4 linked regions of the Homo sapiens genome follow. The protein of the gene in region 1 purifies or fractionates together with the protein of each later gene. This does not show direct contact. Each region holds a gene or a part of one and is shown on either strand. Other genes may lie near its edges. The genes, in order: RGPD1, CDCA2, DLGAP5 and ARID2.

Evidence for each region.
Region 2: the proteins of RGPD1 (region 1) and CDCA2 purify together in Homo sapiens (affinity purification with mass spectrometry; one large-scale study listed by BioGRID and IntAct). This does not show direct contact.
Region 3: the proteins of RGPD1 (region 1) and DLGAP5 purify together in Homo sapiens (affinity purification with mass spectrometry; one large-scale study listed by BioGRID and IntAct). This does not show direct contact.
Region 4: the proteins of RGPD1 (region 1) and ARID2 purify together in Homo sapiens (affinity purification with mass spectrometry; one large-scale study listed by BioGRID and IntAct). This does not show direct contact.

What each region holds. Positions count from the first base shown.
Region 1 is NC_000002.12:86,938,083-86,946,266, reverse strand, and holds the start of RGPD1 (RANBP2-like and GRIP domain-containing protein 1), read right to left. Parts: upstream 4,150-8,184; 5' UTR 4,031-4,149; coding exon 3,959-4,030; intron 1-3,958.
Region 2 is NC_000008.11:25,464,352-25,471,970, forward strand, and holds part of CDCA2 (cell division cycle-associated protein 2), read left to right. Parts: intron 1-1,823; coding exon 1,824-1,974; intron 1,975-3,865; coding exon 3,866-4,062; intron 4,063-5,544; coding exon 5,545-5,629; intron 5,630-7,619. UniProt on the Homo sapiens protein: Regulator of chromosome structure during mitosis required for condensin-depleted chromosomes to retain their compact architecture through anaphase.
Region 3 is NC_000014.9:55,171,883-55,179,501, forward strand, and holds part of DLGAP5 (disks large-associated protein 5), read right to left. Parts: intron 5,455-7,619; coding exon 5,180-5,454; intron 4,137-5,179; coding exon 4,012-4,136; intron 3,591-4,011; coding exon 3,464-3,590; intron 1-3,463. UniProt on the Homo sapiens protein: Potential cell cycle regulator that may play a role in carcinogenesis of cancer cells. Mitotic phosphoprotein regulated by the ubiquitin-proteasome pathway.
Region 4 is NC_000012.12:45,726,221-45,734,392, reverse strand, and holds the start of ARID2 (AT-rich interactive domain-containing protein 2), read right to left. Parts: upstream 4,688-8,172; 5' UTR 4,557-4,687; coding exon 4,465-4,556; intron 4,350-4,464; coding exon 4,256-4,349; intron 3,177-4,255; coding exon 3,079-3,176; intron 1-3,078. UniProt on the Homo sapiens protein: Involved in transcriptional activation and repression of select genes by chromatin remodeling (alteration of DNA-nucleosome topology). Required for the stability of the SWI/SNF chromatin remodeling complex SWI/SNF-B (PBAF).

The sequences.
Region 1 (8,184 bases):
AACAAAATGTCTAAAATGGGAGAAAGGGAATTCAAAATAACAAAAGTATATGTGTGTGTTACTCAGAAGCATGAAGTATAGATGTAAAGGGCAGAAAAAACAACTAACAGCTGTCAAAGGTGCCTGCCTGTAGTCCTAAGTACTCAGGCAACAGAGGTAGGAGGATCATTTATGCCCAAAAATTTGATGGCAGCCTGGACAACACAGCAAGACCCTATTCTAAAAAACAAATAAATAAAAATAAGAGCTGTCAAGTAGAGTTTGAGAAGTAGGAATCAGCTGCAGAATAAGAAACCAACTTGACAGAACATAGAAAAACTAAACAGAAGCCATCTGGAAAAAGAAAAACTAGAGAAAGAATTATATATTTTTTTATTTTTTTATTTTTTGGAGACAGAGTCTCGCTCTGTCACACAGGCTGGAGTGCAGTGGCGCAATCTCTGCTCACCACAACCTCTGCCTCCAGGGTTCAAGCAATTCTCCTGTCTCAGCCTACCGAGTAGGTGGGACTACAGGCGCTGCCACCACGCCCGGCTCATTTTTGTATTTTTAATAGAGACGGATTTTCACCATGTTGGTCAGGCTGGTCTCTCTGCCTCCCAAAGTGCTTGGATTACAGACGAAGAATATTTTTAAGAAGGGCAAAAGCACATGTGAGGGAGTACAAAAATGGCAAAACAAGAGAAGACTAACAAATGAAAGCACAATGGAAGACTAGAAAGATATGATATACAGACGCATCATCACACTCCAAAACTCAGACATTCTAGAAAGCATGGGCAGTTCACAGATGGCCAGTCTCTGCCAAACTGGGGGAGAATATTAACCTCTTTATATTCTTCACAGCCACTGCCTCTTCTCCCTCCATTCCTTACCTTCTATCCAAAGCACCCTGTTTTGTCATTTCACTCAAACCTAACTTTACAGAATAGCTTCACATGTTCCAAAGTTACTCACTAGTTAATCCATATTCCGCTGAAATCCCCAGGTTCTAATGTAAATGACTTTAAATTTGGGGGAAAAAAAAAAGACTCTAAGTGTAAGAGAGGTGGTCATAATAACCAATCCTCAAAATGTTGCTACCACTCCACTTTATTTAATGGAGACGTTATGTAGTTGAAAGAACATTCTAACTTCTGTCTAGACCAGTGGTTTTTAATCTTTTGGAAGCCAAGATCCCCACTAAGAATCTCAGAAAGGCTCTAAACATGCTTTTTTTTTTTTTAAGCTTGTTTAAAAAAAAAAAAATCAGGCTGAGCAGAGTGGCTCACACCTGTAATCTCAGCACTTGTGGCCAAGGCGAGAGGATCACTTGAGCCCAGGAGTTGGAGACCAGCCTGGGTAACATGGTAAGACCCCGTCTCTACATTAAAGAAAAAAGCCGGGCATGGTGGCGCATGCCTGTAGCTGGCATGCCTGTAGTCTCAGCTACCCAGGAGGCTAAGGTGGGAGGATGGATTGAGCCCAGGACGTCAACGCTGCAGTGAGCCACGATCCTGCCACAGCACTCCAGCCTGGGAGACAGAAAGAGACCTTGTCTCAAAAATAAAATAATGGCCAGTGCAGTGGCTCACGCCTATAATCCCAACACTTTGGGAAGTGGAGGCGGGGAAATCACTTGAGCCCAGGAGTTCAAGAACAGCCTGGGCAACATGGTGAAACCCAGTCTCTACCAAAAATAAAAACAAAACAGAACAAAACAGCAGGTGTGGTGGGTACACCTGTGGTCCCAACTACTCGGGAGACTGAGGTGGGAGGATCGCTTGAGCTGGGGAGGCGGAAGTTGCAGTGAGTCGAGATAGCGCCACTGCATCCAGCTGGGTGACAGAGTGAGACCCCACCTAAAAAAAAAAAAATAACACAAAAATTAAAGTCTTTAATTTCAGGAGTTACAGGAACCCTCAATTAAGGTCTGTTTTAGACTCTATCATCACATTCATATTTATACTATGCTAGCAGTTTGAAATTACAATGTACAAGTAGATATCTATCCTTCTTCTCTGGAGGAATAGACTGTAACTTACTCCACTGTTCCCAAGAGAAACTAAATCAGACCCACTGCCAAAATTCTGCTGCACTACCTATTTCACCCTGAACAAGTATCTTAAATCTCTACAGGTCTCAATATCCACAGGGTTGCTGGAAGCGCAAAATAAGATAACGTATGCTTAGTTATGATAAGAGACACAATTATGCTACTATTATAATCATGGTCATCCGTTGAGTTTCCGTTTTTTGGTTTTTTTTTGTTTTTTTTTGGAGTCTCCCTCTGTCGCCCAGGCTGGAGTGCAGTAGCGCGACCTCGGCTCACTGGAACCTCCACCTCCCGGGTTCAAGCGACTCTCCTGCCTCAGCCTCCCGGGTAGCTGGGACTACAGGTGTGCACCACCACGCCCGGCTAACTTTTTTTCTATTTTTAGTAGAGACGAGGTCTCGACATGTTAGCCAGGTTGGTCTCCAACTCCTGACCTCAGGCAATCCGCCCTCCTCGGCCTCCCAAAGTGGTGGGATTACAGGCGTGAGCCACTGCGCCCCGCCAATATCCTTTTAACATCAACAATAAAAACAGTGACTTGTAGCTAACACTTAGTGCTATGTGTCAAGCAATACCCTAAATGTTTAAAATGGATCATCCTATCAAATTCTATTAATGTTACAACTCCATCTATGGATGAAAAGTGTAACTGGCCCCAAATACCCAGCTTATAAACGACAGTGCTGTGATTATTCAAGCCAAAGCAAACTGACTCAAGATTCTGTGCACATCCACCTTTAATAGCTTCTTCCGTCACTCTTTAGATCCAATTACTAAAGTCTTATTGAATCCAAAATAGATCACATTATTTACCTGTAAAGAGGAAAAATACCCTAAAAACATTTGTGGAAAAGGTTAAAAATTGTAAGCCATACTAACGATTTGTAAGAACTTTAGAATTTTTTTTTTTTTAAGCAAAGGCAGCTACCAAAGTGTTCTGGGCGGGGTGGGGGGGGGGCGAGGGAGGTGAGTATGAGTGGAGTTGGACCCTTATAAAGGGACAGCGACAAACACCTCATACTCAAAACAAGGGGACTTCCCCTGTCATTTGCGCCGTCGGGCCACTGCAAATGTCCGTGCTGAGATGCCTACGTTGTCACTCGACACAGCCGCCAAAGCTCACCCGGAGCTGCGTCAGTCCCCACTGGGTTCCTCCAGGCCAAGGAGGTACGACCTCCGCCGCAGCATATAAAGTAAATGTCCAGGACATGGGAAGAAACCCGCCGATACAGCACCCGGGTGCCCAAGCCCCCGAGAACTAGGCCGCGCGGGTACTATGGGGCCAGAAAGCCCGGGCCAGGGCGGGCCCACGAGCGAGCACCGTCGGGAACAAACCGGGAGAAAGAGGAAGATCCGGCGCCAAAGGTATCCCGCCCACCGCGGTCCCCCCAGGACTCTTCCTGCGCTTGCAAGCGCCACGCCGCCCACAGGACTGCGCCAGCCGGCCGGCGCCTCAACAGAGCGCGCCAGGGAGCAGCGCCCGTCAGGAGCCATGACGCCTGAGCCATCGAGGCCGCCGCCGGGCCACGTCGAGGCCACCGCCGCCCGGCCAGGTCGAGGCCGCCGCCGCCGCCCGGCCAGGTCGAGGCCGGCGCCTCAACAGAGCGCGCCAGGGAGCAGCGCCCGTCGGGAGCCATGACGCCTGAGCCATCGAGGCCGCCGCCGGGCCACGTCGAGGCCGCCGCCGCCGCCCGGCCAGGTCGAGGCCGCCGCCGCCGCCCGGCCAGGTCGAGGCCGCCGCCGCCGCCCGGCCAGGTCGAGGCCGGCGCCTCAACAGAGCGCGCCAGGGAGCAGCGCCCGTCGGGAGCCATGACGCCTGAGCCATCGAGGCCGCCGCCCGGCCAGGTCGAGGCCGCCGCCCGGCCAGGTCGAGGCCGCCGCCCGGCCAGGTCGAGGCCGTCGGTCTCTTCGAGATCCACTCACCTTTCCAGGCGACGGGGCGGAGCCCTGCACCGAGGCGACGTACCGCTCCCCGTAGGCCTTGCTGCGCCTCATCGCACCGCCAACCTGGCTCCCGAGACGCGTGAAACCAGCGCTCAGCCCCGCAGCAGTCGCCAATTCCAACAGGAAAGCGCCTGAAAGCCACTGACGTAGCCGGCGGAGGACCACTGTGACGCACTTGTGTACTGCGTCAGCACTGTGTATCCTTGGCGACGTCGGCGCTCGAGCTGCACTCGGCCGGGCTCTTGGCAGCACCCTGTGCTCTGAGGGTGTCTTGCCCGCCGGGCGCCGTGGCTCACGCCTGTAATCCCAACACTTTGGGAGGCCGAGGCGGGCGGATCACCTGAGGTCATGAGTTGGAGACCAGCCTGGCCAACATGGCGAAAACCCATCTCTACTAAAAATACAAAAAATTACCCGGGCGTGGAGGTGGGCCCCTGTAATCCCAGCTACTCGGGAGGCTGAGGCACGAGAATCGCTTGAAACTGAGAGGCGAGGGTTGCAGTGAGCTGAGATCGCGCCACTGCACTCAAGCCTGGGCGAGAGTAAGACTTCCTAAAAAAAAAAAACAAAGCGCATTCTCAAATCCCGCAGTCAGTCCTGCGGGTGGAACACTTAGAGGAAAAGTCAGACCTCTCTATATGCAGGCCCCTCCAATACTGTATTTTCTGTCAGCTTATAAGTGGACCCAGGCAGTTCAAACCCATGTTATTCAAGGGTCAACTGTGTATATAGGAACAGCCATTCGCCTGGCACAGTGGCTCAAGCCGGTAGCCCCAGCACTTTGGGAGGTCGAGGCGGGAGGATCCCAAGAGTTCCAGGTTACAATGAACTGTGATAGCGCCACTGCATTCCATCCTGGGCACCAGAGTGAGACACTTGTCTCAAAAAAAAAAAAAAGGAAAAGGAATAGCCCCCCAAATCTATATATATTTCACTAGCAGAATAACAGAACATACCAAAATTTAACAGTAATAATGTAAAGATTTTCAGCCGTCTGTATTTTCCAAATCTTCAAAAATGTCTATTTTGGGAATTTGGATATTAAAATCTTACTTTTAAAACAAAATTTAACAAAACATTTTTAATAGTGAGAGCCTTTTAGATTTTAAAAGCTCACATTTGTGTAAACATTACAGTCTTAATTATGTGGACAAATATCAAATGCGTTGATATTTTTAACTGGAAATTTGGGCTATTTTGGTTGTGGATAATTTTTTATCCTTTTTGTTTTTCCATATTTTCTAAATTTTGATATAATGAACAAGTATTGCCTTTCTAAAAAAGGAAAAACAGCATTTTGTTTTATTTCAACCATATTGGATGTGAATAAAAGAAAAGAAAAAGATGATTCTGAGCTTACCAGTGTGTGTGGCCCACATTAACAGAAATGACATGTAAAGAAAATCTAGTTTGGAGTGGAAAATCCTATTTTAGGTAGTTGATTTCTTTCACTTGAGGTACCATTTATCTATCCATGTGGGGATAGCCTAGTAGGAAGATGAAATGGTAGGACAGAGATCTTGATGGAAGCCAGTAGTTGTGGCACAGTTCTGAGGCCCAGCTACTCCAAAGGCAGAGGGGGGAACATCCCTTTAGCCCAGGAGTTGGAGACTGCAATGAGTTATGTTCATGCCTTTGCACTCCAGCCTCTGGAAGAGAATGAGATTCCTATCTCTAAAATGAAAAGAGGGCCAGGCACGATGGCTCACGCCTGTAATCCCAGCACACTGGGAGGCCCAGATGGGTGGATTGCTTGAGGCCAGGAGTTCAAGACCAGCCTGGCCAACATGGTGAAACCCTATCTCTACTAAAAATGCAAAAATTAACTGGGTATGGTGGTGCACGCCTGTAATCCCAGCTTCTTTGGATGGCTGAGGCACCAGAATTGCTTGAACGTGGGAGGTGGAGGTTGCAGTGAGCTGGGATCGTGCCAGTGCACTCCAGCCTGGGTGACAGAGCAGACTCTGTCTCAAATAATAAGAATAATAATATTTAATTAATTTAAAAATAAAAACCAAAAGAGAAGATCTGATGAACTTAGAAGTCATATATCTCAGGTGATAGGTGAAACCACAAGTTTGCCTTGAAAAGTGTGTTGATGACAATAGCCATACCTAACAAGTACTTGCTGTGTTCCAAAGCTCTTTTTGTTAGCACTTCATTTGTATTAACTAATATCATTCTTCCACCAACTTTGTAAGGGTACTGTTATTATCCTCAGTTTTTACAGATAAGGAAAGCAAAAGACAGCCAGGTACCATGGCTCATGCCTGTAATCCAAAACTTTGGGAGGCTGAGGTGGGAGGATCACTTGAGCCCAGTAGTTCAAGACCATCCTGGGCAACATAGCAACACCCTGTGCTTACAAAAAAAGAGAAATTAAAAACTAGCCAGGCATGGTGGTACATGCCAGTAGTCCCAGCTATTTGGGAGACTGAAGCAGGAGGATCTCTTGAGGCTAGGTGTTGGAGGCTGCAGTGAGCTATGTTCACTCCACTGCACTCCAGCTTAGGTGACAGAGAAAGACCCTGTCTCAAAAAAAAAAAAAAAAAAAAAAGGAAACCAAGAGAATGAGCACTGAAGCAACTTGCCCAAACACACTCACCTAGTAAAAATGGTATCATTAATTCATTTATGCTGAATATGTTGAAAAGGAGTGCCCAAAGAGAGAACCTTCTTTTCTTTCTTTCTTTCTTTTTTTTTTTTTTTGAGACGGAGTTTCACTCTGTGGTCCAGGCTGGACTCCAGTGGCGCAATCTCGGCTCATTGCAACCTCTGCCTCCCAGGTTCAAGCAATTCTTGTGCCTCAGCCTCCCGAGTAGCTGGGATTACAGGTACGTGCCATCACACCCGGCTAATTGTTGTATTTTTAGTAGAGACGGGGTTTCACCATGTTGGACAGGCTGGTCTTGAACTCCTGGCCTCCAGTGATCCATCTTCCTCAGCCTCCCAAAGTGCTCGGATACAGGTGCCCGGCATCCACCGTGCCCAGCATCCAAAGAGAGAATCTTCTTGAGGAACTCAAAAGACTTTTCTCTTTTGGATAAGCAGTTCATATTTCTGCATTTATTACGGATTTTCACATTTTACTTCATTTCACACTACTTTTTTTTTGTTCAGTGGTATAACATTTTCACCATGGCACTGAAAATTCCATTTGCATTAATGTCCAATGTCATATATTCCTACCATGTTGCAAATACAGTTCATTTGTCCAGCTTTACTGAGGTATAATTCACAAATAAAAATTGTATACCTTTACTAGGTACAACATGATGTTTTGCTATCCAAGCATACCTCATTTTATTGCACTACATTTTATTGTACTTCACAGATACTATGTTTTTGACAAATTGAAAGTTTATGCCCACTCTGTGTCAAACAAATCTTTCTGCATCATTTTTCTTTTTTGAGAGAGTCTCACACTGCCGCCCAGGCTGGAGTACAGTGGCACGATCTCAGCTCACTGCAACCTCCTGTGGCAGGCCAGGTCTCACTAATGCAGACTTCCATAACAACTGTTTCAGTAATGACTGAATGAAGTTAAATACTAAAAGCCAGTGCCCTTATACAAAGGCTGGGATGTAACAAAAGGCCATCAAAACTTTTGCCTAGGCCTGTCCTGGGCCTTAAAGCATGACAAAATAATGAAGGAATTCTTTTTATTTATTTATTTTTTTTTTTTTTTGAGATGGAGTCTTGCTTTGTCTGAATATGTCAGCTTGCTTGATAGGTAACTTGATTGAGTCTAGGCGTTGCCCATGCCTACTCTGATCTTTACCCTCAACCTAAATAGCATATGTATAGTTCTCTTGATTAATCCTTAAAGTTTAACTCCCTACCTTACCCCCACCAAACTAGTATTTCTCCTCAAGGAAAATACTGTCTGCTCACACTGGGGCCATGGAAGAACCACCTGACATGAGTTTTTGTGATTTTCTGTTTATCTCAAAACTTGGCCTTCGGCATTTACATCTTGGATGGCTTTTTGTATCTCCATTTTCTCTTTATAGTTTCATAAACAGTTCCTCTTGAAAAATTATCAGTGGTAAAATCTGATGAGTATCAATAGTCTCCAAAGTGCTTTTTATCTTCATCCTTTATCCAATACATTCTTACACCCTCTGAAATTGTTTAGTTTGCAGAAACTTAGCTTACCCCTTTTTGACTATTTACAGCCATGGCAATTTTTACTTGGTTTGTTT
Region 2 (7,619 bases), on another chromosome or scaffold:
GCTGCAGTGAGCTGTGATTGTGCCACTGCACTCCAGCCTGGCTGATAGAGCAAGACCTTGTCTCAAATAAAAATAAAGTAATTTTCCCTAGATCCTGAGCCCCTCAAACAGTTTGTGGTGCATGGAAGGAAGGTTGTTGACTGACCGACACAATTCCTAAAACAAAAACATCAAAAAAGCAGTACATTTTGAATGTTTCATTTGCTTTGTATGTAAACATTGTTCTCCTTCTCCAGTAGAAAATAGAGAAAAAACAATTTTGACTAGAGAAACTTAAAATTTTTTTAAGCAGCATTTCAAAGTGCTGCATGTTCCTAGGATATTAAATCTGCCCCTACCATGTTCAAATATGTGTGCAAAAAAAGCACATTCAAAGTAAATTGTATGAATTTGAGATCATCTTTTCCCTGTCGTTCTGTTAGATGAATTGACATAAGCCTTTTTTGAATATTATTGCTGTTTATGTCGTGAACGTTTGTGTCATCAAGGATATTTCAATGTAAAATGTTCTCATTATGTAATAGAGAATTTGCTTTATATTTAACTGGGAAGAGAATCAAATGTGTGAACAGATCACCATCAAACATGGCTTCACGATATGAACTGCTTTTTCTCCCTGTGATATATATATATTTTTTCTGAGACCAAGCCTTGCTCTGTTACGCAGCCTGAAGTACAGTGGCATGATCTCGGCCCATTGCAACCTCTACCTCCCAGGTTCAAGCGATTCTCCCACCTCAGCCTCCCACATAGCTGGGATTACAGGCATGCACCACCACGCCTGGTTAATTTTTGTGTTTTTCGTAGAGACATGGTTTCACCATGTTAGCCAGGCTGGTCTCAAACTCCTGACCTCAAGTGATCCTCCCACCTTGGCCTCCCAAAATGCTGGGATTACATGCATGAGCCACTGTGCCCAGCCTACTCTGTATGATATCTTAAACGGAGGTAATTTTTACTTCACTTTTTGCCCATTGGTATAATTTTTAAACATTGCCACAAACTTCATATCAGTGGAAATGTTAGTAGTCCAAGTAATAAAAAAAAATCTAGATAGAGAACTTCATTTGTAATTTAATTTTTATGTAAAGGGAACTCTCAATTTTTATATTACTTGTCTTTAACTGGCACTTCTATCCCTGCTAATATAAATTTCATTTTATCAGTCTTTGGTTGGAACCCTGTTAACGGGGTTTCCAGAGAGCTTCTGTGCTTATACCATCAAACTTTGTATTTTAAGAGAATGGCTGGCTTTCAACCCTAAGAAGGAAATATCCTCCAGGTCCCATACAATCAGGAAAATTAGCTGGGAAGAGCCAAAAAGGAGAGCAGTGCAAGTGTAGTATCTGAGCATGTATGGAACTTCTGTGTCTCGTTCTGGCCCCTGGGCTGGAGGGCATGTGTAGACCCGTGCTGAGTAGAAACAGCTTGGACTGAAGGAGGTATGCTGAGACTTACCTGTGACACAAGCACCATGCAGATGGCTTCCTATGGATACATCCAGCACAACATTTGGTAAAAATTGCAAATAGACAGGTTCCTCCTGTCCCTTTTTTGTTGCACCATCCCAGAGCGCAATGTTTTTTTGGCACCTTCCATATAATCTTAGGCTGGCCTCTCAACATTTTTGTGTTAAACTTCCTTATTCAAACTGAAAATGGGTAATTCCAGGGTGAAGAAGCTCTGCCACACTAACTCCTTACCGCTGATCTTCAAAAAGCATATGTGTACTGTATTTAATTTTGGATTCAATGGCTGTAGGCCTAGAATATAGAAAGTATGAATTGATTATAATACTCCTTGTATATTTTGCACTTTCACAGGGCAGCCCTGCACTGTATCGAAATGTTAACACTTTAAGAGAACGAATATCAGCCTTCCAGTCAGCTTTTCACTCCATAAAGGAAAACGAGAAAATGACCGGCTGTCTGGAATTCTCAGAGGCAGGAAAAGAGTCCGAGATGACAGACTTGAGTGAGTAGAAATAATTCGTTCAGTTTTGACTTCAATATTTATAAAGACAAGCTTCTGAGTTATGAAATGATTTAGTGTGAAGCCAATCTTTTCAGAACACAGGTATATTTATAAAGTGAGACTAACATTAAAAATTTGGGACATTTCACACAAAAATAAGGATTTCTGGTTTCTCTTAGAAAAAAAAACCTGTTATCAGGCATTCCTAATCCTACATTTCCGCATGGTTGCAATTAAATTTTAAGTTTTAAAATGCCAGAGATAATTAGCTCATTTCACCTTTACCATAGAGCTTGTGGCAAATTTGAGTTTACAAATCTTGATTTTTACAGGATTATTATTAAGCTCGGCAAGCATTTAGTAAATGAAATAAATTCATATAAATTTTATATGAGTACCAAACACCCAACCCTGATGTTAAAAACAAATATATTCAGCCAGGCGCGGTGGCTCATGCCTGTAATTCCAGCACTTTGGGAGGCTGAGACGGGAGGATCACTTGAGGTCAGGAGTTCAAGACCAGCCTGGCCAACATGGTGAAACCCTGTCTCTACTAAAAATACAAAATTAGCCAGGCGTGGTGACACATGCCTGTAACTCCAGCTACTGGGGAGGCTGAGGCAGGAGAATCACTTGAACCTGGGAGGTGGAGGTTGCAGTGATCCCAGATCGTGCTATTGCACTCCAGCCTGGGCGAAGAAGTGAGAGTCCCTTTCAAAAAAAAAAAAAAAAAAAAAAAAACACACACACACACACAAATATATCCAATCTGATAATCTGCTATATTCTTTAACTCTTAGATTGTAATTCATTTGGTTGTTTTTTCAGTCTTTTTTTTTTCCCCCCCAATCACGAAGCATTTCAGATACCAGAATGTGACAAAATCTTGGTCTTACTGTAATCATTATAACCATTCTCTGGTACTTTACACACTAAGGTTTCAAATGATTCTGTTTTGAATTCTTGAACCATCTTTAAGTGCATTTCAGCACCTCCCATGAGGATTGCTCTGTTAGCCCAAGACAAGTCCCCCTCATCTACCTCTAGAGTGCGTGACCCATTCAGATGTACCGATTTATATTTGTAGTTTGTGACTCACTTATTGTTTCAGTTTTTTCCTGGGTTTTAAAATTTATTTACATCATTATAATTCTGCAGACAGTTCCTTTTTTTTAGCTAGAAAAAAACAGGTACGTTGTGGTTGTCTTTTTCATAAAGTCATACAGAGTATTAGAGCATAACCACATCTTTCAAAATAACAGGTGTCATCATTTAAAAAGCGTGAGGTACCATATTAGACATGCAAAAGTATTTTAGTATATCTTTGTACCTTTTAAGGCCTGAAAAAACTTAATTCTAATAATATGAATGTATTATCTTTTCAATAGACATGTTTTCATTCCTTTCAGTTAGATTTAATTTTTTTTGGAATAAAAAAGTGTGGTAGATTTTTCTTTTCATTGATAATTTAGACTTAAGCACTAGATTTTACTAAAATTACGATGCACAATAGCCGGGCGTGGTGGCTCATGCCTGTAATCCCAGCACTTTGGGAGGCTGAGGTGGGTGGATCACCTGAGGTCAGGAGTTCAGACCAGCCTGACCAACGTGGTGAAACCCCATCTCTACTAAATATACGAAGATTAGCCAGGCATGGTGGCATGAGCCTGTAATCTCAGCTATTTGAGAGGCTGAGGCAGGAGTATCACTTGAGCCCAGAAGGTGGAGGTTGCAGTGAGCTGAAATCGCACCATTGTACTCAAGCCTGGGCGACAAGAGTGAAACTCCGTCTCAAAAAAAAAAAAAAAAAAAAAGAAAAGAAAAAAAATATATATAATATATATGAAAACATTTATGCCTGTGTCGTTTTGTTTTTATTTTGTGTTTATAGCCAGAAAGGAAGGTCTCAGCGCTTGCCAGCAGTCTGGGTTCCCTGCAGTGTTGTCCTCCAAACGTCGGAGAATATCCTATCAGAGAGACTCTGATGAAAATCTGACGGATGCTGAAGGAAAAGTAATTGGTCTCCAGATATTCAATATTGATACAGACAGAGCATGTGCAGTTGAAACTTCTGTAGATCTTTCTGAGGTAATTCACTTACTTTACGCATAGGAAAATGAAGTTGTTGGTTTTCTGCATAGGCAGTTTTAAGGCTGTCAGTGCCGTTCTTCAATTTTAGTACCTTGTTCTGCCCTGTGGTTCCTGGGGTGTGTGTGTGTGTGTGTGTGTGTGCGTGTGTGTGTGTGTGTTTCCTACCTGTTAATTTTATGGTTGCTGGTATTTATCACTTATTAGAAACAGTTTGGATAATGATCTCACTTTTGACTACTAACCTTACAAAGAGAGTAAGCCCTGGGGTCTTCTACGTATGAGGTATTCTAGAGGGTGATGCTCCAAGAAGGGAGGAAGTTACAGTCTTGCCCTTAGGCAGTATTTTTTCTACTGGGGAGCAGGGTATAAGCAGATGGCTTCAGTGGAGCTGGTGGATCAGGTGGAGATTCTGTGTGGGGTGTACTCCACAGGCTTGGGAGTCTTGCACTTATACCTGCCCCTGACTGCTTTCCTTCTGATGGAAATCAGGGTGCCATTCAGCAATTTCTCCTTTGCTCACTTCTTTCAAGTAGCTCTAGGGATTTTTGTGGCTTATAACTACCTAAACCCTGTCAAGACGATCAAAAGGCGATATTAGAAAAATAATACTACTGAAGATCAGTTGACCTGCGCGCACGCGTGAATGGAGAGCTGGTCTCTCGTGACGGACTTTTCTTACTTCATGCTTCTAGTTCTGGTTTGACACAGTAGCTCCTCATGGCCTTTGTGAGAGGAGACACCTAACACCGTTACAGTTGGAACCCTTTCTGCACTTTCTCTGTCACTTAGATCCAGTGCTCGTCCTATTCGTTTTATGTGGACTGGCAGAACAAAGATTTGATAGTTATTAGACATTCTTCAGGCTCCAGTGGGTTTCCTTTGTATTTCAGTCGCCTGTAATCTCGGCTGCCTCCGCCCTTTTCAGGTTGATGTGAAATCCCCACTGGACAGAAGCAAGAATAATTGTTTGTTATCAGAACTTTGATTAATTGTTTGAACATACATCATGATTCAGATATTATTTCTGAATTAGTGTGAATGTGTTTTCTATCCTAGCCTTTAATGTTTTTCATATCCTAGTTATTGATATCGTTTGGCGTTTGATTAATAATTATATAAACTTTATTTTGAGAATTTTCTCTAAAGAATTACAGATGATACAGCTATCTAGGCTATAACAACAAAAATATATCCTTTAAACTTTTCCTGGGGAATTAAAAGTTGATTTGTGGGATGTTTAGGATGCAGTTAATATGAATAGTTCATGTTAGATTCCTGTACACTTTGAGATACACTTTATGAGATAAAGTGTACACTTTTCTCAGGATAAAGTATCTCCTGTACACTTTATGAGATAATGAAGGTGACTGATTGAACATCAGATTTCCAGGCAATCCATAATGTTTACTCAAATCTTCAAAAAGGCATTAGTAGTACTCTAATTAATAAAATGTAATACTCTTTCAATTTTTCCCCAAGATATCATCTAAACTTGGTTCAACACAGTCTGGATTTTTAGTTGAAGAGTCTCTTCCCCTTTCAGAGCTCACAGAGACTTCAAATGGTAAGTAATCTTTTCTTAGTACATGGCCAGTTGCCCGATTCATAGACATTTATGATTAGTGTACCTATTTGCTAAAATTTGGGGGAACTGAAATTGTTTCCTACTTTTTAGGAGCTCATGGCCTAGTAGAAATGCTTCTGAATTCTTGTTATATGAGAGATACTCTCTTTTTTAAGCTACGATCAATAAGAATTAGTGAAGTATTTTCAAGCTCATGGAATTTAGTATAAAGAGGTAGCACCTATGAACATATTAACAAGTATTCTTTGTTATAGGAACACTACTTGTAATATTTTTATTTGTTTTTAAGCATGTAAAAAGAGTCTTACCAGGATGTAAAAATTATTCTTTCTCAAAATCAGTATGCTTGTACTGGGTGAACATTACTAGCAAGGGTTTAGATTGACTTTTTTTCTACTTGGGTCTTTAAAACTCTTATGGGCATATAATTGGATCTTGTGTTTTATTAATCCATTCTGATAATTTATTGTAATTGGAATATTTCGCCTATTAACTTTTTAGGTAATTACTTAACATGGTTTTATTCACATCTGTCATTTTATCATATGTTTTCTATTCCTGATTATTGCTCTGTAATCTTTCATAGTCTGGTTAGTTGATATTATACAATTTCACATAAAATACAGAAACTACAAACTCTACAGATCAATTTCCTCTCCTTTCCAGCCATGGCTTTTATGATCCTTTACAGATACACACTTACTTCATTATAAGCCTCACAAGATGTTGTTTTTGGATTAAACAGCTGTATGTGCTTTGTTTTTCTTTTTTTTTTTTTAAGGCAGTTTCTTACTCTCTTGCCCAGGCTGGAGTGCAGTGGTGTGATCTCAGCTCACTGCAACCTCCCTCTCCCAGGTTCAAGCCATTCTTGTGTTTCAGCCTCCTGAGTAGCTGGGATTACAGGCGTGCACCACCATGCCCAGCTAATTTTTATGTTTTTAGTAGAGATGGGATTTTGCCACATTGGCCAGGCTGGGCTTCAACTCCTTGCCTTTAGCAATCCACCCATCTTGGCCTCCTAAAGTCCTGGGATTACAGGCATGAGCCACTGTGCCCAGCCAAAACAGTTATATGTGCTTTAAATAGGTTAAGAGGGGAAAAATAGTCTTTTATATTTACCCAGATGTACCATTTCTTATGTTGTTTTTTCCTAAAGATCTGAGTTTCTCTGTCTTATTTTCCTTCAACCTGAAAAAGAACTTCTTTAGCATTTTTGTAGTGAGCATTTGCTCTGACTTTTAATTTTAATCATAAGATAAATGGGTGGATGTCCGCCTGCATGGTCCCCCTGCACAGGGCAAGGTTGTGAGTTTGTTACCACAATGGAATAAGGTGTTCTTGCCTTCAATGTTTTCTTTCTTCTTCTTCTTCTTATTTTTGAGACAGAGTCTCGCTCTGTTGACCAGGCTGGAGTGCAGTGGCACAATCTCAGCTTACTGCAACCTCTGCCTCCTGGATTCAAGCAATTATCTGCCTCGGCCTCCCAAGTAGCTAGAATTACAGGTGCCTGCCACCAAGCCCAGCTGAGTTTTTTGTATTTTCAGTTGAAACAGGGTTTCACCATCTTGGCCAGGCTGGTCTTGAACTCCTGACCTCATGATCCACCCATCTCAGCCTCCCAAAGTGCTGGGATTTGCCACCGTGCCCGGCCCAACAGTTTCTTAACAATTCTTTTTGCTTTGCTCTTATGGGACTTTGCGTAGGAGTGACAGATTCTCTGTGACAGTGATTATAGATTGTATGAAGTGTAGCGATTCACAGTTGTCATCATACTAAACACCTCACTCTACAATGTGAAATGTTGAAATCACACAGGCCAAAATTTTATTTAGGCATGCCATGAGGCCGTACTCAGAAACAGTGTAATTAAACAGGGAAGAATAGATCTACCATAGTAGATGGGGCCTTGATGAAAGGAGTCTGGTGTTGATTTCTGTATTTTAAACTGCGTTGTTTTTTGGTGGCACCC
Region 3 (7,619 bases), on another chromosome or scaffold:
TACTTAAATAAGATACTTAGCAGAGTCAAAATCAGAGACAGAAAGTAGAATGGTATTTACCAGGGGCTAGGAGGGAATGGCTGAGGAATGGGGAGTTATTTTTTAGTAGGTACAGAGTTTCAGGCACCTACCACCACGCCCAGATAATTTTTGTATTTTTAGTAGAGATGGGGTTTCACCAAGTTGGCCAGGCTACTAGTCCTGAACTCCTGACCTCAGGTGATCTGCAAGCCTCAGCCTCCCAAAGTGCTGGGATTACAGGTGGGAGCCACCGAACCCGGCAGGTTTTGTTTCTTTAAAAAAAAAAAAAAAAATTTAGGGCCAGACTCAGTGGCTCATGCCTGTAATTCCAGCCAGCACTTTGTGAGGCTGAGGCAGGCAGATCACTTGAGCCTAGGAGTTCCAGACCAGCCTGGGAAACATGGCGAAAACCAATCTCTACTTAAAAAAAAAAATACAAAAAAAAAAAAAAGTATTTAAAAGATAAATGAAAATCACCTAACATCAGTTTCCCTCCACTGTATTAAGGTTATAAATATTTTAGTTTTGGTTTTAAATGTCTAGATATTAGTACAAAATTCTTTATTTTTATTTTTTTTAAATACAAAATTCTTACGCTAGAAACAGACATAGTCCCAGCTCCTCAGGAGGCTGAGGTGGGAGGTCGGGAAGTCAAGGCTGCAGTGAGCCAAGAGCGAGACACTGCACTCCAGCCTGGGTGACAGAGTGAGACCCTGTCTCAAAAAACAGAAACAAAAACAAAAAATTTGAGTTGTTCATATTCAATGACACAACATGACGATTAATAAGGAGGCAGAGGGTCGGGCACGGTGGCTCTCGCCTGTAATACCAGCACTTTGGGAGGCTGAGGCAAGCGGATCACAAGGTCAGGAGTTCGAGACCAGCTTGACCAACATGGTGAAACCCCGTCTCTACTAAAAATATAAACATTAGCTGGGTGTGGTGGCACACGCCTGTAATCCTGGCTACTCAGGAGGCTGAGGCCTGAGAATTGCTTGAACCTGGGAGGCAGAGGTTGCAAAGAGCCAAGATCGCGCCATTGCACTCCGGCCTGGGCAACAGAGCGAGACTCCGTCTCAAAAAAAAAAAAAAAAAAAAAAAGAAGAGATAGCAGAAATGGTTTAGTTCTGACATTATCTAGTTAGGTAGATTGCTTAATATTTCAATAACTCAGTGGAATGACACAATGGATTAGCTACCTCTAAAATCCCTTATAATTCTAAAACCCAGTGCTCTAAAAAAGAAATTAAGCTGGACATAGTGGCTCATGCCTGTAATCCTAACAGTATGGGAGGCTGAGGCAAAAGGATCGCTTGAGCCTGTGAGTTCGAGACCAGCTTGGGCAATATCATAAGACCCCCGTCTCTACAAAAAAAAAAAAAAACAAAAAAAAAAACACACACACACCAAAATTAGCCACCCACTGGCAGGAGGATGGCTTGAGCTCAGGACAGAGAGGCTGCGGTGAGCTGAGATCACATCACTGTACTCCAGCCTGGGCAACAGAGTGCAACCATTTCAAAACAAAAGAAAAGAAAGAAATGAAGTCACTCTCAAAAAGTATATTTATAATAGAACAAATGAATAGTAAAACTATAATGAGATACTTACTTCTCATCTATTTGATTTGCAAACAGAATAGTGTGTATTGTATGATATTGTCTCTCTCTATAGATATATGTTGTCTCTCTCTCTCTCTCTATATATATATATACATGTTGCAGGAAGTCAGGGACCCCAAACGGAGGGACTGGCTGAAGCCATGGCAGAAGAACGTGGATTATGAAGATTTCATGGACATTTATTAGTTCCCCAAATTAATACTTTTGTAATATCTTATGCCTGTCTTTACTGCAATCTCTAAATATAAATTGTAAAGATTTCATGGACACTTATCACTTCCCCAGTCAATACCCTTGTGATTTCCTATGCCTGTCTTTACTTACTTTAATCTCTTAATCCTGTCAGCTGAGGAGGATGTATGTCACCTCAGGACCCTGTAATAACTGTATTAACTGCACAAATTGTACAGCATGTGTGTTTGAGCAATATGAAATGTGGGCACCTTGAAAAAACAGGATAACAGCGATTGTTCAGGGAATAAGAGAGATAACCTTAAACTCTGGCCGCCGGTGAGCCGGGCGGAACAGAGCCATATTTCTCTTCTTTCAAAAGCAAATGGGAGAAATATCACTGAATTCTTTTTCTCAGCAAGGAACATCCCTGAGAAAGAGAATGCGCACCTGGGGGTGGGTCTCTTAACTGGCCCCCTGGGCGTGGCCGTCTCTTACTGTCGAAACTGCAGGGGTGAAATAGACCCCAGTCTCCCATAGCGCTCCCAGGCTTATTAGGAAGAGGAAATTCCCGCCTAATAAATTTTGGTCAGACTGGTTGATCTCAAAACCCTGTCTCCTGATAAGATGTTATCAATGACAATGGTGCCCGAAACTTCATTTAGCAATTTTAATTTCGCCCTGGTCCCGTGATCTCACCCTGCCTCCACTTGCCTTGTGATATTCTATTACCTTGTAAAGTACTTGATGTCTGTGACCCACACCTATTCGCACACTCCCTCCCCTTTTGAAAATCCCTAATAAAAACTTGCTGGTTTTTGCAGCTTGTGGGGCATCACGGAACCTACCGACATGTGATGTCTCCCCCGGATGCCCAGCTTTAAAATTTCTTTTTGTACTCTGTCCCTTTACTTCTCAAGCTGGCCAATGCTTAAGGAAAACAGAAAAGAACCTACGTGAATATCAGGGCAGATTCCCCGATATATATATGTATATAGATATATATATATTTTGAGATGGAGTCTCACTCTGTTGCCAGGCTGGAGTGCAGTGGTGCAATCTTGGCTAACTGCAACCTCCGCCTCCCAGGTTCAAGCAATTCTCCTGCCTTAGCCTCATGAGTAGCTGGGACTACAGGCGTGCACCACCACGCCCGGATAATTTTTACAGTTTTAGTAGAGATGGGGTTTCACCATGTTAGACAGGATGGTCTCGATTTCTTGACCTTGTGATCCACCCACCTCGGCCTCCCAAAGTGCTGGGATTACAGGCGTGAGCCACCGCGCCCAGCCTATTGTCCATATTTTTTAAAAAAGAAAAAAATGTACATGTTATATTTGTCTACATATGCATGAACTATCCATGGAAGTATTCACAAGAAATGAGTAACACTTGCCTTCATGAAAGGTTCAAACTATGTGGTTGGGTCACAGTGCTGAGAAGAAGTCTTCTCACTTGTACCTTTTCCTACCCTTTGAATTAGGAACCACATGAATGTACTAGTTATCAAAAAAATAATTAAAATTTAAACGTGAAAATCACCTAACACCAGTTTTCCCCCACTATATTAAGGTTAAAAATTTTTAGTTTTGGTTTTAAATGTCTAGATATTAATACAAAATTCTTACACTAGAAACACACAGACATACCTGAAATATGGCACACCATGGTGGGGCTGAGCAATTCGACCTTCATTTCTTTCAAGTGATGGGACTTCTTTTATTGGAAGGCCATTTAAATTTTTAGTAGTAGCTTCATTTTTATTTAAAACATGTTCTATAAATTAAAGAAAATCTTACATATAAATTTCAAAGCAACAATTCCTAAAATGACAGCCCCTAAAAAGACATTTTAAAAATCCTTTTCAATGTTTAATTTTAAAATTTTATTTCTGCCTCAATCACTTCACATTTCCTCTAAAGTAGCTCTCAATATTTTTTCTTTAAATTTACATTTATTTCCCCTCTTCTGTCTGTATTCTTCATTCCAATATTCTCTTCAGATATCTTTACCCATGCTTTCCCGTCTTTTCTGACCCTGAGTTCACATCCCCAAATGATATGGTGAAAAAGAGCTCCAAACAAATCTGACAAGTAATAATCCAGAAAAGTAAAAATGTAATTACTATACCTGAAAGCAAAATATTTTTTGTATTAACATTATTCTAAAAAATGAATAAATTAATTAAATACTATACCTTCATGCCAAACAGTTAGAGGACCCAAAGGACATGGCAATTTATTTGAATCTTGCTGTATTGTCTTGGTAGAGTAAGTTTTACATTTTTGTGCCAAAATTTCTTTTGTTGCTTGAGACTCATCACTAAAAACAATAGCAAAAATATACTTCATGAAACATGAACTCCATATATCTAATATAAAGGGTTTCAAAATTGTGTCACTTGTAGATCTGGGCTAAAATAGAAATGTTTCTATTTTTTTAAAATGTGTATTCTGGAGGGGAGAAAATGTAAACACCTATAGTGTGAATGTCCATTTTTACTAATTAATTGTAATCAGATTCAAAGATTTTGAAGATTTCTTAATGGAACATAAACACTTAACAGTCTTAGATGCTGCTGAGCAGTTTTTAGTATATTTGCTGCCAGCCAGTCTTTGCAAAATGATCTTGCCTTTTCTTTTAAAGGTTCCAACTGATTTTTCCCTTGTTTTGCAAATTAATCATTTTTGTCTTCAGGGCCAGTTTTTCTAAATACTAAGCCAGAAGAAAATGAGGAAAAAGTCGTATCTGAGCTAAAGCAGTATAGCAATTTTCTTCTTTTGAAAAATGTATGTGTTATAATTAAGTCATTTATTAAAAACAAAAAACCCAAATTGTATAGTGAAAATAACAATGCATAGGAAATATAAAAACTGTCAATTACATTATTGTACCTTCTGAAGAATTTTTTTTAAAGAAAAAAATTGCATGATTCCTAATTAACACAGTTCACTAATAATAACTTTTTAAGAGCATAGACCAAATATAAGAAAGACATTTGGCCGGGCGCGGTGGCTCACGCCTGTAATCCCAGCACTTTGGGAGGCCGAGGCGGGCGGATCACGAGGTCAGGAGATCGAGACCATCCTGGCTAACATGGTGAAACCCCGTCTCTACTAAAGATACAAAAAATTAGCCGGGCGTGGTGACGGGCGCCTGTAGTCCCAGCTACTTGAGAGGCTGAGGCAGAAGAATGGCGTGAACCCGGGTGGCGGAGCTTACAGTGAGGGGAGATCACGCCACTGCACTCCAGCCTGGGCGACAGAGCGAACTCCGTCTGAAAAAAAAAAAAAAAAAAAAAAAAAAAAGAAAGGCATTTATTACCCATCTTAGCAAGAGACTTATTATTAAGATCATATTCTTACACTTCTGTTTTTAAAGGAGTCCAGGTGTAACTGGGTGTCAAAAAAGCATTGGCACTTCTGGGAGTCATAGGTGTTACTTGATAGGTCTTCAGACCATCCAGTGGCTGAAACATAAAATCCTTAGGTGCAAAGGAATTCTTCCCTTTTATTTTTGCAGTATTTATCTCAGGTAAGTTTTCCATTTTTGATAAGACTCCATCTGGATTCATTCCACTTGTTGCATTAGTTTGTGAATTCAAAGTATTTTCTTCACTATCGACTTTACAAGAAATACCCTAGGATGTGAGTTAACAAAGTAGAGTAAGATTTCTCTCTTCTGAGGATATATTCAACCAATTTTTATAGGTCTGAAAATATGACAACAGAAATATATGTTCTATGTACATAATTTGAGAGACAAAAACAGATACAATTAAGTGTATACATGGAATCAGAAGACCAGTTACGCTAAATCCATTGCTATTACCCGGGAATAGAATCTTTTTTTTTTTTTTGATACGGAGTAGCCCTCCGTCGCCCAGGCTGGAGTGCAGTCGCGCGATCTCGGCTCCCTGCAAGCTCCGCCTCCCGGGTTCACGCCATTCTCCTGCCTCAGCCTCCCAAGTAGCTGGGACTACAGACGCCCGCCACCACGCCCGGCTAATTTTTTGTATTTTTAGTGGAGACGGGGTTTCGCTGTGTTAGCCAGGATGGTCTCAATCTCCTGACCTCGTCATCCGCCCGCCTAGGCCTCCCAAAGTGCTGGGATTACAGGCGGGAGCCACCGCACCCACCCCGAACCAATTCTTATTTAAAGACTAACTAATACCTTTTGGGTATTACAACAAATTAAAAGATAATGGAAAATTAATATGGAAAAACTTATTCAACAAATACGTATCTTTTTACTTAAATTATGTTGATAATTACGGCCAGGCACGGTGGCTCATGCCTGTAATCCCAGCACTTTGGGAGGCTGAGGCGGGCGGATCACAAGGTCGGGAGATCGAGACCATCCTGGCTAACACAGCAAAACCCCGTCTTTGCTAAAAATACAAAAAATTATTGGGGCGTGGTGGCAGGCGCCTATAGTCCCAGCTACTTGGGAGGCTGAGGCAGGAGAATGGTGAGAAACCGGGAGGTGGAGCTTGCAGTGAGCCGAGATCGTGTCACTGCACTTCAGCCTGGGCGACAGAGCGAGACTCTGTCTCAAAAAAAAAATTATGTTGATAATTACAATGGTTTAAAATCAGAAATCTAACATTATGGAATGACTATCATTAAGGACCAAATTCTTAAGTTAAATAACCTTAGATTATAAATAACCTTAACACAAGAGCAATACTTTCAATGTGACACAAAAGATTAACCATATAAAATACAAAGCATATTTACTATTTCAAGTCAATTTGTTACTTGGTATTTAAATAATTTCTAGAGGTTTCCAGGTTTCTGATTTTTAATAAGATATGAACTCAAACCCAGGTATTTCAACCTGGACAAGAGTTTAAGTGGTAACACTGTTGAAGCCAGCATGGCAGTCAAAGCAAAAACTAGTGATAATCCTTAAGGGTTAATCTTAAGGGGGGACCTATAAGGTCCAGCTGCTTTATCTGTGAAGATTCACTGTGTGTTTCCTTTCTTGATCTGTGTTTGATTTTTTACTAAGAATCTAGCCAGGTTACTTAATCTTTGGTACTTTTTTTAAATTAAGAAATTATACTGGCCAGGCGTGGTGGCTCACGCCTGTAATCCCAGCACTTTGGGAGGCCGAAGTAGGTGGATCACCTGAGGTCGGGAGTTCAAGACCAGCCTGGCCAACATGGTGAAACCTCGTCTCTACTAAAAATACAAAAATCAGATGGGCGTGGTGGTGCACGTCTGTAATCCCAACTACTCGGGAGGCTGAGGCAGGAGAATCACTTGAACCCGGGGAGCGGAAGGTGCAGTGAGCCAAGATCGCGCCATTGCACTCGAGCCTGGGCGACAGAGTGAGACTCTGTCTCAAAAAATAAAATAAAAGAAAATAAACTATATCATAGATTATAGGCCAAGGGGTTGGGTCCTCAAATGGGGCATCTTTTTTGAAGACCTTATTAGAAACCATGCTAGATGCAGGCAGAAATTTTAGTTTATTTAATTCTTACAACTACTCTATGCAGGTATTCCATGTTAGGAATAAGAAAAGAAGCTCATAAACTACATAACTTGCCCAGGGTTATGCAACTAATTGGAAGCAGAGAGAGTATTCAAACCCAGGCCTAAATGAATCCAAAGTCAATGCATTTCACCCCACTTCACCCTATGTCTTGGCTAATTCCCACATACAGGTTTCTCTCAGCTGTGTTTTTATTATTTTTCTCCATCTTCTAACAAAATTATGCTTTCTCTACCTATAAAGCTCTGAAAATAAGATACCTGAAAAATAACAAGAGTAAATCCTCTTGATGCTTTCTTATGG
Region 4 (8,172 bases), on another chromosome or scaffold:
TATTTTATTTTATTTTATTTTTTTGAGAAAGAGTCTCACTCTGTCGGCCAGACTAGAGTGCAGTAGCACGATCTCCGCTCACTGCAACCTCCGACTCCCGGGCTCAAGCAGTTCTCCTGCATCAGCCTCCCAAGTAGCTGGGATTACAGGCATGAGCCACCATGCCAGGCTAATTTTTCTATTTTTGGTAGACACGGGGTTTCACCATGTTGGCCAGGCTGGTCTCAAACTCCTGACCTCAGGTAATCCGTCTGCCTCGGCCTCCCAAAGTGCTGAGATTACAGGCGTGAGCCACCGCACCTGGCCTCCAATTTTTAAATAGACTGCTTTTACACATTATCTGTAAGCACTTTACTTTTTTTTAATTTTTAATTTTTGTGGGTACACAGTACGTGTATATATTTCTGGAGTAGGTGAGAAACTTTGATACAGGCAGGCACTTATATTTGTAAAAATTAAATGCCAATGTTAAAATAATCAATTGCATTTTCAATTTTAGACTCTAAGAAATTTTTGTAGACAAGCTATAACTGAATAAATGTATATTTGAGAAAATTAAGTTAATGTCTGGCAGACCATTAATACTCAAGTCTATATTTAATGACTGTCAATATTTGTATCAAAAATAACAAAACACTATTAAAATATACATGGCCAGCATACTAGCTTGCTCTTCCTAATTTAAATTATCTGTAATATTATGAAGATATATCATAAAACACTAGGCTAACAGCCATCCATCCAATTAATAGCAAACTTACAGGGGAATGTGAGCAAATATTAAACTTGTAAAGGAGGAATAACACATATAATGACAGTCTTACAATAGGTCAAATGAAAAAGCAGTTCATATTAAAAAATTATTCCACTTGTAATTTAAAAAACACACTGCATTATCTGCTCATCAGTAATGATGATATTCAATCTGACGTAGCAAAGAGGTAACTTATCAAGTCACTCGATTACTATTTCTTACTATGAAGAGCCAATCTTATGGGTAGGTAATAGAATTGCTGTTACTTGGCATCTTGTCTGCCAATTAAGATTTTTCAGAGGAAGGTGTAAAAGCTAGCATCATATATATCCTCTTACTGTGCAATATTAGACCACCAGGAAAAAATTCTTTCAAGGTTGGTAGTACCTAAGTTTTGACCAGCATATTTCTTTTGTATTTCTTTACAAGCCATGCAAATCTTCACATGGTTTTATTTTCCAAAACAAATGCTTCAACTTTTTTCCTAGTAGCCTAGCTACAACCCTGCAAAAACAAACCTAGAGAGTGACATATGGAGGAAAAACAAGTTTAACTAAGGACATAGTTCAAAAAGCAGCTTCTAATAAGAGCAAAAAGCCCAATTTGATCTGAAGACCATGTAAATACTTACAATGTTGAAACTATATAGTTAAAAACAGTACCTATAATTAATGATATCCTCCCAAGATAAAAATGACAACTGGAAAAACAATATTTATAATTAACTTTTGTTAAAAAAAATTGGAAGCCTAGATATTAATTTGATTATGCTAAAACTATTAGTATGAATGTAAACTCTTCAGAAAAATATACATCTCATGAATCATGTATATTCTATAGTACTTTCTGGTTATAAAACTTAAGTCAATCAATCTAACAAATATGAAGCAAAACTTCAAAAATATGTATTTCAAACAGTCCAAAATTCAAATGCTTTAAACTGATAAAAACATAAAACCAGAATATGTATTAACATGTTCCTCTCAATATCATAAATAGAAATGAGCAAATGAATGTCACGATGAATATAAAACTCTCTTGTTTCTCACCCCACTACTAACTCAACGGTTTTGGAGGTTAATTTTGCTTTTTGATTTAGCCCTTTAATTTAAAATGTACTCTGACACAAATGCCATCACACACACACAATAGATGACAACCATATTTAATATTTTCTAGACTTCCTGTGTAACTCAATAACTACTCCACAAAGTTCTGCGAACTCCAGCTTCAAGCCTGAAGTCAATCTAAGATAGCCAATAGAAAGTACACCTGTGCGATTACTGCATTTCCTATTTCAGAATGCTGAACGTAATACACAATAACTGAGTGCATCTGAAGCAATAATAAATGCAAAACTCAAATTATGCAGAAGCCACCTTACAAAAAAAGGCCTGTACTATCACTATTAAAAAGCAATAAATACAAAGAATATCATTTTAGTTTTTAATAACACCAACTAACTTAGGATCCTCTAAGATAAGCACTTTAAAAATAAAACACAGCATCATGATAAATTACAGTATGAAAGTATTCCTAGAAGAAAAACTAGAGGCAAAAAAAAAAACGCTAAATCACAAAATATATCATCTAGACTGTATCACATACCAACTGAATAAGAAATTAAACTTTGCCGAATAAGCAGTCAAAGAAGAAGAGGGAGAATGAAAGAAAATCCAGATTATAGTATCCCATTTCATAGTATCCCCATTTTCCTAAAGATATAATAATTTAAATTATCTAATTTAAATTACTAATTTAAGTCACTGGAAATTCAACAAAAAGTAATTATCAAAACAATCCTGGTCACCTAAGCCACCAACATGTTATGCCATGTAGGAATATTCTACTGAAAAACCTATTCAATGACACTGTTCCAAACAAGAAGTTTCATTAAAAAAAAAAAATTCTTAAAGCCAGAATTTTTAAAACTAAAGGAGTTTCCAAAACAAAGAAAAAAATTTTCCCAAAGGTTACAAAGTTTCATTAACTATCTTAAGTCTTTTACTAAGCATCACCTTTCTGCCCCTCAGTGGGTATCAAGCGATGAATAACAATGTCACAAAAGAATGTTTACCAAGATTGGGGCTGGGGTGTCACCTGTAATGATTTTGTATGAAAAATGTAAACGATCCTGAAATTGGTGAGGAAGACTTTCACCTTCCTACAATCTCACTTTATTTATATTAAATGTGTCTCAGTCTGAAATGAACAAGAGCTTAAGAACTGTTTGGTGTGCAAGGTTTGCTTTTGTTTTTGCTAAAAACAAATCTCTCCATAAGTCCCTTATTTCCAAATACTATGGAAAAGTCACTACTACTCACCGCAAGTAATACTGTTTTAAAGCAAAGGCAGCGTTAGAACAACTTCTGGGAAAGTTGAACTCTTCAACAATTTCTCCCCACTGATTCTTCTCAGAAACCTGGTAAAACACAGGCACAGTTGTCTGAACGTGAACAATCTAAGAAAATCTTAACCTAACTATGAAATAAATACCCATTCTACAGAGATCTGTAGATACCTAAGGCATCAGTGGGTGTTTCGGATCGATCGGTAAGAGTTACTAAGCAAGGGCTTCTTGAATCACTGTGTTTTCACCAGAGAGCCCTGTATTTAATACCACTTGTTTTGTTTGGGGGTGGGGGGGTTTGGTGGGTTTGTTTTGTTTTTGAAGCCCGGACAATAACCAATCGCAAGTCCCTCTGTCGCCCCCTTTTAAATCTCAACGCGGTCCGTTTACACTAAAAAAAAAAAAAAAAAAAAAAGTTCAAAAGGATCAATACAGTTCCGGACAGCGACGTCCGCGGGTTGGGGGGGGGGCCGGGGCTGGGGCCGATTCCGATCCCTCTCCCAGATCTATCCATCTCCATAGGCCCTTCTTTGAGGCCTACAGCTTCTGCCTAGCCTTGAAGCCTAAGATGGCTATTTGGAGACAGGTCCTGGTTTCTTTTGTTAGCTGTATAAACCGAGGGCGACGGGGCCGAGGCTGTGCCCCCGGCTGCCGGGATTATTTCGCAGCCGATTATCGATGTTAAACCTGCCCGCGCTAATTTTGAGTTGCACGAAAACTGCTCTCAGAGTCTGTGTGTCTCTGTGTGTCTCCGCCTGTGCTAGAGCGGCAGCGGCGGCAGAGCTGACTCGCGAGCGAGCGGGCGGGCGGCGCGGGAGCGGGGCGGGCGCGGGGCTCAGGCTGGCGCCCCGCACGCCCGCATTCCCCGCCGCGGCGCTCAGACCCCGCCGGCCCGACCGGGCACCGGGCAGGGCGCGAGCCGGCGCCGGGCCGCCCGCCCGCCGGAGCCCCGCGCCCGCCGCGCGCACGCGAGCCACCAGGCCAAAAACAGCCCCGCCGCCGTCCGCCTCCGTGCCACCGGCTGGGAGCGAAAAGAACGCCTTTTGCCCCCGCGGGCCACCCCCCCAGCCCCAAGCGCCCACTCCGGGGTCAAAGGAGACTTTTTGGAGGAGGCCAGCGAGAGGGAAATACAAATTAAAACTTCCACTCACCTTCGCGAATCCGCCTAAAGTAGTGACTCTGGTGTAGAGACCGTGAAGATCCAGCTCCTTCCCACCCACCGCAGGGATTTTTTTAAAAGGCGACCTGCGGGAGAGAAAAAGCCCCGCACTTGTCAGCCGGGACCCCGTGCCCGGCCCGGGCGGGAGAGCCCCGTTCGCCCCGGCTCGCCCCGGCGCTGCCCCCCCGGTTCTGCTCTCACCCTCTGCTGTGGTGGAACTGCCGCAGCTCGTCCAGGAAAGCGAGTCCCTTTCTCCGCTCGTCCGGAGGCGCCTTCCCCGTCGAGTTTGCCATTATTTTTTCAAAGGAGGTTTTTAAAAAACCCAGATCGGTGTTTTAAAAGCGCCCCCCGCTCCCAGCGCTTCCTACCAGAGCCCGGAGCCCATTCCTCGGCCGGCGGCGGCGGGGCTCAGTCATGGGCCGGCGGTGGCGGCGGCGGCGGCGGCGGCGGCGGCGGCGGCGGCGCAGGGAGGGAGGGAGGGAGGGGGAGGAGGAGGAGGAGGGGAAGGAGGGAGCAGGAGGCCAGGGGGAGAGGAGGGAAGGAGGGAGGGGAATTTCTAAAAAAGTTTAAAGAAATCGGAGCGAAACTAGAAGGGCAGGCGACTGCCGGATCCGCGCGAAGCCGCGGGGCGAGCGCGGCCCCCACCCCTTCCTTCCCTCCCTCCCCGTGGCCCGGCTCTCGCCCGCCTCTCAGCGCCGCCGGCTGAGGCAGCTCAGCCCGGGGACGCGATTCAACATGGTGCTGCTGCCGGGGGCGCGCGAGCGGGCGACGGGCAAGGCGAGCCGATGGTGAGGGGTCTGGGCGGCCAGAGGCCCAAGAGTTTCGGCGGCGGCGGCGGCGGGGCTAGGGCAGGCGGGGCTGGGGGTGGGGAGGGGGAGGTCTGTGTGGTGGTTTGTGGAAAGCGCGGTGACAGCGTGTATTTCGGCCCCGGCTCCGCGGGGCCCTCGCACACATTCACGCGCGGCCTCGGCCGCTGAGGCCGGGGCGTCCCCGGGCAGAAGCACCGGCGGCAGCTGAGCCGCTGCGCGCCGCCCGCCTGCTTCCCTCCCCGCCAGCCTCCCTCTCTGCCGCCGCCACGGCCTGGCAGCCAGTGCCACACAGCGACCCCCGAGGGCTGGCCGCGGCACTGCGCCTGGCTCCACACCGCCCCGGCAGATCCTCGCGGGGAACAATAGACTCGACTCGCCGGGCTTAGGGTTCGTCTGCAATGTGCCGCACATTTCACACGCACACAAAGCCGGCGGAAAGGGGGGCGGTGCGGGGAAACGGCCACTACCGGTTGTTCCAGGGTTAGGGGTGGAGGCGATGTTCGCGTCCCCGGCCCGGCTGTTGGAAGGGCCGCCTCGGAGTCCCCGCCCGCCCGACAGAACCGGTGTGGCGCTCTGAAGGGAAAGGAAGCTCACCGGGGTAGCCCCTCACGCTACGCAACATTCACAGATCGGAATAAAGTCAATTTGTTACCTTCTGTTTTTGTAAAATCTAAAGGAATCGGCTTTTATGAGCCGTATGCTAGTATTTTGGGGCCTGGTTAGCACATTTTCTATGAATTATCCACACGCTAACTTTAGCAAACTATACGTTAAATACAATGTGAACTGTCTGTCCTAGTTCTGTGGAAATAGAGTAATGCTCTTAATTCATCTTGCCGCTGGTTGGCTTCACATATCAAACTGGAGTATTCTATGAGCAAAGTTATGCAAACTAACTAAACTGGTTGGGAAGCAATCTATCGAACTTCGACAATAATAATTAAGGTTTACATTTTTATAGTAAGGTCTCTTCAAGATTGCTGCGTTTAAAATAAATACCGAATAAAACGTTTTTCCTTGCTTTCAAATGTCTTAAATGTAATCCTCGTTTAAAATATTTTGAAGGTTAAAAAAACCCTTTGCTTAAATGAGTCAAAACATCTCAACAAATACTACCACCTAAATTTGCATTTACGAGGGGTGTTGGAGCCGGCTCTTTGCTACAAATGTTAATTAAGATTACAGTACGTGAAACGTATTATTATTCCCATTTTAGTGACGGCCACCACGGGCAAAGTCACTGCCTAACCCAAGGTCACAGGGTAGTAGGGGTCTGGATGGGTTATTTCAGGTAGTCGTTCCAATGGGAACATTGCTTTGGAGGTGAAAAATTATGTAATATAGTGCAGCTTGCTTCCGGTGCTCACTCTAGGAAACGGACTTATTTCCCAACTAAAGTTTGTCTCTTAAGTGGGGTCGGAATAAGGTTGTGGCTAGGAAGATCCTGACAACCCAGGGCCAGTGAGTGTCTCGGAAGCCTGTGAGGGGCGGAGACCCGGCCCGGGGAGGTGGAGAAGCTCGCCGGCCGCGGAAGACTAGGGGTGAGGCTGCTGCGAGGAAGACCCGGTCAGCTGTCCCTTCCCCCATCGGTCCTCTTAGGGGAAGTGGAGATGTGGGCCTCGGAGCTGCGTGGCCCGGGCTGTGCGGATTCCCTAAACGCCGCACTTGCGCACAGCCCCTTACGTAACCGTCAGTGCCGGGGATTCCCTGGAGGGGGTCATTCTATTCAACCATTATACACACCCCGGGCTCCTGCCGCCGCGCCGCCGCCGCCTCACAAAATGGCGGCGCCCATAGAGGAGACCGCGGCCGCCTCCCCGGCCCCATTTTGTGGGAGGCGAGAGATCTGTCAACATGGAAAACCTCTGCTGAGGATGCATCCGAGTTTGGAAACCCCACTTAAGGGATGGAGCCTGGGGGATCACATTAAACGGAAAATGCCAACGACTTCTACCACCTCTACGCGTTTTTAGTTTTTCATTTTCTCGAAGGAAGCGCCAGAAGCCTGTGGAGTAATTGTAACTAGAGGGAGAACGGAAAGCTGAGGTGACTGCTCCGGGGACTTGGCGCGGCGCCTTGGTGGCTTTGGTTGCTCTTCCACGCTCCCGGCAGCTGACCAGAATCTCTTGGAGGGTCTCCTGGGCCACCTCGGCCGCGCCAGTCGTGCAGTGAGACTTCTGTAGTTTTAAAATGCCACAGTCCACGGCCCGGTCGGCACCGCTCGCCTGAATCGTGGGCTTTGGGAACCTTGGAGGCTGCTGCTCCAGGAACTCGCGGTCGGCCGGGAGCCGGGGAGCTTCGTTGCTGGGAGCGGGCGGTATTCGCGGACTCCGGCGGCCCTGGCGGGTCGCGGCCGGGATCCGAGCCGGGGATGACGATGCTGATGGAGCTGATGGGGCAAGAGTGGGAACGGAGGCACGTACACTGAAATTTAAGTCATCCAAGTTGGGACTTAAGATAGCAGGTTAATATTGTCTCAGGCGAGACTTAGAACGTCTTTTCTGGTATCCCAGTCTGCAGTGGGCAAATCTATTGTCTTTATTTCTCATTTAAGGGCAGAATGGAGGGATGACATATTTTTACTTTTCAAGAGGCGGTTGCCACTTTTAAGTCACTGTTGTGTGTGTGTGTGTACATACACAAACATACGATAGTGTGTTTTCAGAGCAAGTATCAAAGGCTAAAGACTTGGAGTGATACTAGTGTTTAAAAGCCTTTTTAAAAAAATTAAGATGTGATGAGAAACTGGAGAATTGACTTTTAAAAATTTCTTTTCTGTAGAAGAGGCTATCTTCAAAATGGAGTCCTAAAGTATATCTGATGGATAGAATTTAAATTCTTAACACTGTATATACCCTGTGGTCAAAAGCATCAACGTAAAACTTGATGTTTATCAGATTACTTATGTTTCAATTTTCCTGTGGTTAGAAAAATTAAGACAGAAGTAAGCTATTAACGGTATTTGCTTGTAAGAGTAACGTTAAAGGTTTAAGGAAAGGTTTGTTGAAATCGATATGCATCACACGAATCATTTATTTTCAATGTTGTTTTCCAGTTGCAGCAATCATTTGTGTTTACATGACTTTGAAAAAGGGTTTAG